2 separate regions of the Homo sapiens genome follow, and region 2 is linked to region 1. The links come from fine-mapping of genetic effects on gene expression. A gene starts in region 1. The other region holds a variant in brackets. All regions are shown on one strand. Distances are between the middles of the regions. Region 1 holds the start of CMC2 (C-X9-C motif containing 2). Region 2 overlaps CMC2 (C-X9-C motif containing 2).

What was found. PIP is the estimated chance that this variant, and not a neighbour inherited with it, causes the effect.
Region 2: its variant is the best candidate, but not a certain one, in a credible set for the expression of CMC2 in fetal neocortex (Walker 2019, PIP 0.83).

Annotation. Positions count from the first base shown.
Region 1 is chr16:81,005,737-81,008,651 of GRCh38, reverse strand. CMC2 (C-X9-C motif containing 2) reads left to right here and starts at 1,767. Exons shown (of 4, transcript NM_020188.5): 1 at 1,767-1,918. It overlaps CENPN (centromere protein N), which reads right to left and starts at 1,438. Exons shown (of 11, transcript NM_001100624.3): 1 at 1,375-1,438. RefSeq lists enhancers at 930-1,069, 1,380-1,489 and a silencer at 1,660-2,029.
Region 2 is chr16:80,963,714-80,966,628 of GRCh38, reverse strand. It overlaps CMC2 (C-X9-C motif containing 2), which reads left to right. Exons shown (of 4, transcript NM_020188.5): 4 at 1-181. Among named protein-coding and RNA genes, the nearest start is that of CMC2, 42 kb to the left of the region's middle. The variant C/AC (reference allele first, on the strand shown) is at 1,922.

The DNA of each region.
Region 1 (2,915 bases):
AACACGGGCGAGGGGCCGGGAGCGCGCCGGGCGTGGTGTATCACTTGAGGTCAGTCGTTCAAGACCACCCAGGCCAACATGGTGAAACTCCGTCTCTACTAGAAATACAAAAATTAGCCGGGTGTCGTGACGCACACCTCTAGTCCCAGCTACTCGGGAGGCTGAGGCAAGAGAACAGCCTGAATCCGGGAGGAGGAGGTTGCAGTGAGCCGAGAACGTGCCACTGCCCTCCAACATGGGCGACAAAGCAAGACTCCGTCTCAAAAAAACAAAAAACAAACAAAAAAACCCACAGACGAGGCTACCCGTTAAAATGAAGATTCCTGGGCCCTATCAAATTAAACTGTGAGGAGGGCGCACGGAGGGCTTGAGATTTAGCATCTTTTAAAAAGTACGTCAGATGATTTATTCCGGGTAAAGTTTGCAGAACGCCAGTCTAAAGAAATTTGGTAGAGCGCCCTCAGTCTCACCAATTAAGACGGAAATCCCTTTAGTAAACGTTTACCCCGTGACCATTTTTAAACTTTCCTTTTTTTGTTGTTTCGGAGACACAGTCTCGCTTTGTCGCCCAGGGTGCAGTGCAGTGGCGCGATCTCGGGTCACTGCAACCTCCGCCTCCCGGGTTCATGCGCTTCTCCTGCCTCAGCCTCCCAAATAGCTGGGATTACAGGCACCCGATACCACGTCCGGTTAATTTTTGTATTTTTAGTAGAGACGGGGTTTCACCATGTTGGCCAGGCTGGTCTCGAACTCCTGACCTAAGGTGATCCGCCCACGTCGGTCTCCCAAAGTGTTGGGATTACAGGCGTAAACTACCGCGCCTGGCCCCATTTTAAAACTTTCTTTATACTTCCTAGCGTTTTAGTGTCTGACATACAGTAGATGCTCAAGATCTGTGGAACGCATGATCAAAAAGATCCATTTTAAGTAACGTTCCCGTAGCCACACACCTCTGCTGCGCTCCAACAGGCAATGCGAGGAGCAACGCAAGAGGGTACAGGGACAAAAAACGACGGAAGCCGAGGTGACAGAAAAGCAAAACCCCAACTCTGGGAAAGGAAGCAACCCCAGGATCGTAGAGCGGAGCCCCTGGTCACATGACCACACGGCCCTCCCCTGACGCAGTCGCGAGCCTACGAAAGGCTCCACCCGCCCCACCGCGGGCGAGGTGACGTCACAGCCGGCACAGCGCCACCGCCCCCTCACCTCGGCCCGAACCGTAGTTCCTCGCCCCGAGCCCGAGACCCAGCGCCAATCCTGCGCCTCACAACGTGCGACAATTGCGAAAAAGCCACCCCCGAGGCCTGGGATCTGGCTTCCTCAAGGCCCCACACCCTCCGGGGCCCGATCCAGTGCCGCCCGGGGCTCTCTTACCGGCCCACATCTCCTGCAGTCTCACTCCTCAAGAGCTGTTCCCGCTCGCCGCGCCTTCAAAGCCACCAATTGCAGTTCCCGCCGCCTCCAAGCTCCGCCCACCGGAGCACAAGCATCAGGCTGTGTCTTGGGCACAGGGGACTGCACGGGGGAGCGACTGAAGCGAAGGTCGCCGAGCCCCCCACGCCGCTCTTCTTAGAAGTGTGCAACCTTGCACCAGTAGTGGACTTACACATAGGCTCCGTTAGGACCTGGCTTATGTGCTCGGCTTGTGGCTTAGACGCTGCCGTGCCCCAGTGGACTCACTGTGCCTCCCCCCACGACGGACGGAAATGGGCCCCTCCAGGACAGGCGGCGCATGCGCCTTGGGGCCCGCGGGCGGCGGGGGCGAGGAGCCGGGAGCACGGTGGAGCGGTGGAGGGCGTCACTGGGTTTCGGCGTCTGGCAAGCGGTTCAGCTGTCTGCTCCCTAGCAGCCGGCCTTCGGGTCGGGCGTCTCCGCCGGCTACTGCCGCTTCAGTTCTCCCGGTGTGGCCACGAGTCGGGTGAGTCTCGGGAGTCCAGGCCGTTCCGAACGCGTTCCGTTGTTCCTCCTCAGGTCCCTGATGGCGCGTCCCGCCGAGCCCCTTCCTGCCGCCCGTCGGCCCCAGGAGGTGGGGACCAGGAAGACCCGGCTGCCGCAGGCCCACAGCCGGGCTGCTGCGCTGGGGAGGCTGCGAGCGAGGTGGCTGGGCGCTCGCTGGAACACGCTGGTGGCCGAGACAGGCCGTGGGCGTCGCTCGGGGTTGGGATCCGCCCGCCACTCACTCAACTGGCTGGTGACCTTGGGCGCGCTCCTCCCCTCCCGGAGCCGGGGCTTCCTCGCCGGTAAAATGGACCTTGAGGAATGGAGCCCTCAACACAGGGTTTGACACGATGAGCGCCCAATAAAGTGTTGTTATTGTTGTTTATCTAGCAATTGAGAATTTGCGGGTAGAAAACGGGGGCCGTTCAAGCAAGTCTCAGCTGCAGTGCCCTGTGATGTGAGAACCCACCAAGAGCCCCATCAGTACACTTTACTCTTTTTTCTCCTTTAATGCTTTTTTTTTCCAGGAAAGTAATACATTCATCTTGCTTTTCTTGCGTTTAAAGATCAGGCGTTTTACGTAGAGTCTTAAGTAAATCAGTTTTGGAAGTCTTCATTTAAAACCTCAAAGGCATGGAAGTTTTCGATGGCAAAGGAATTATGTTGTGATGCCATTCGTATCTCCTCTCCTTTATATGTATGGCTTTTGCACTTGTTTAGTTGATTTAAAATGAGTTTCTTTTTCATCCTTTTCCTACTGCGTTGAGGCCTGAACTAGTTGTCAGTTTCTGACATTCCGCGAACATCGATTGGGCATTTACCATGTGCATTGGCAAGAATGCTCCCTCACGAGCCTGTGCGTTCCTTGAGATGTGTGAACGAGTATTTTCCTCTGAAATTCACATGATTCTGGCAGAGTGCTAGGCACCTTGTAAGTCCTGGTAATGTTTATTCAGGGAAAGCTGCGAGGGCGCATT
Region 2 (2,915 bases), 42 kb after region 1:
AAAAAAAGTAAAACTTTATAATAAAAATAATATTGTTTTGAAATTGGTATTATAAAATATCACGTTTTAAAGTTATGATGTTAGTGTCAGTAGAAACCAAGATTTTCAACCTAAGACCAAAACAAGATACAAGTGTAAAATTCAAGTCAAAACATGCATTAAATTTGAATTGGAAATAGTACTTTGAATTCATTATTTTTTTTAAGAAGTATTTCCTAATTCTGTCCACTGAAAAGGTCTTTGAAGCAATGACACCTCAGTAGCAATTAGCATCCTTAGCACTCAGATTATGCTTCCTAATACCATTGCCCACTAAAAACCAGGTCTCTTTGGAGAAGTGGCTGATTCCAGCTCTTGGGCAGTAAATGTCATGTTGAACCTGAGCTATCTTATGCCAGAAAGCAGGGGAAGCATCAAAGACTGCTGGGGTCCTGTCAATAAGACCCAGGAGCTACCTTGAAGGAGTGCCCAGTGGCCACAGGTGAAACAATGCTTACATCGAAAAGAATAGTGAATGCAATAGATTTATACGCATTGAATACGTAAATATCCATGAGTTCATAAAAATGCTTTGAAAGGCGTTAACATCACTGAAGGTTGTTAGGGTATCCAACTCATTACTGTGAAAGGAAAACAAAATATTTGTCCAAACTTTCTGGCATAAACTATTGAAAATAACCATAACCAAATGGATGACTGAGAGAAAGTTATTTATTTATTTATTTATTTTGAGACAGGGTCTCTGTTGCCCGGACTGGAGTGCCGTGGCATGATCTTGGCTCACTGCAACCTCCACTTCCCAAGCTCAAGCGATTCTCCTGCTTCAGCCCCACCAAGTAGCTGGGATTACAGGTGCATGCCACTACTGCCCAGATAATTTTTTTGTATTTTTAGTAGAGACGGTTTTCACCATGTTGGCCAGGCTGGTCTCGAACTCCTGACCTCAAATGATCCACCCACCTCGGCCTCCCAAAGCGCTGGGATTACAGGCGCGAGCCACTGCGCCCAGCCCATAAAGTTCTTTTTAACATATTTCTTGAGATATAATTCATATACCATGAAACTCAATCATTGAATAAATGGTTTTTATTATATTCACAAAATTGTCCAAACATCACCACAACCCAAGTTTAAAATATACAAGGTCAGGAGATCAAGATCATCCTGGCTAACACGGTGAAACCCCGTCTCTACTAAAAATACAAAAAAATTAGCCAGGCATGGTGGCAGGCGCCTGTAGTCCCAGCTACTCAGGAGGCTGAGGCAGGAGAATCGTGTGAACCCGGGAGGCAGAGCTTGCAGTGAGCAGAAATCGCGCCACTGCACTCCAGCCTGGCCGACAGAGCGAGACTCCGTCTCAAAAAAAAAAAAAAAAAAAAAAAACATATATATATATATATATATATATATATATATATATATATATGTTTTTTTTTTTTTTTTTTTTCATTCACGCCAAAAGAAGCCCTGTACTCCTTAGCAATCACACCCCATTCTCTTTCGCCTTCACAGCCCTAGGCAAATACTAATATGTTTTCTGTCTCTATGGATTTGCCTATCTTCCAGACATATTATATAAACGGAAGCTTTAGTTAAATATGTGCTCTTTTGTGATTGGCTTCTTTCACCAAGCATAATATTTTCAAGGTTCATCCAGATCGCGACATGATCAGTACTTTATACCTTCTTATGCTGAATAATAAAAATAAAGTTCTCAGCCTGGCCAACATGGTGAAACCCCGTCTCTACTAAAAATACAAAAATTAGCTGAGTGTGGTGGTGAGCACCTGTAGTCCTAGCTACTAGGTAGGCTGAGGTGTGAGAATCACTTGAACCTGGGAGGCGGAGGTTGCAGTGAGCCAAGATCGCACTACTGCACTCCAATCTGGGTGACAGAGTGAGACCCTGGCTAAAAAAAAAA[C/AC]AAAAAACAAGTTACAAAGCATCATTTTCAGCTCCTAATACAATAATGGGTGAGTGATGTTTAAAATTATCAGTGGGTGTTTGAAACCATTAGGTGGAAGAGAAAGTGGATAGTAGGAAGGTATAAAATTGGATGAATCACACCAGTGAACCCTGAACTCAGTGATAAATCTTAAAATTATTAAATCATTCAAAGACTGCTACATATTGCATGCCTCCTCTTATTTTTTTAAATGAAATGACTACCATATTATTTTTGAAACTAATCAAACTTCTAGAATTAACTTTCACTTTCTGAAGGCTAGAGAAACACGTTACCACAGAAATCCAAAACGTGTGTGATATTCTATAGGACAAATGACTCAATTGTCTTAGCAAATAAGTAGCATAAAAAAGAAGAGGGAGAGGGATTCAATGTATGCTTTAGATTAAGAGATTTAAGAACATAACCAAATGCAATGTGTGAATCTTGTGTGGATTCTGATGGGAACGAACCAACTGAAAAAAGACATCTTTGAGACAGTTGGAGAAATTTGAGTATGATTGGGTTTCAGATGATGTTAAGAAATTGCTGTCATTTTGTTAAGCATAGTAATGGCATTGTGATTATGTTTTAAAAAAATCCTTACTAGTTAAAGATGCCTTGAAGTATTTACAGGGAAAATGATAGATGTGTGGGATTTACTTTAAATTACCAGCAAACAGAGTGGGTGCAGGGGGATTAATGAAACAAGATTGGCTATGTGTTGGTAACTGTTGAAACTGGATGATAGATTCATAAAGTTTTTTTTTTACATTTGTCTCTAATGAATGCTTGAACATTTTTATAATAATTTTTTTAAAGAGTCCTAGATGCTTAGAGTCAAGAAGCAATTTCATCTAGAATATAACTTGTCAGAATATGTGCTTCTCTGAGAAAAGGACTCAGAACGTCAGTTTTTTTTAAATGCTTAACATTTATTTTGGTCTTTTTTTTTTTTTTTTTTGAGACGGAG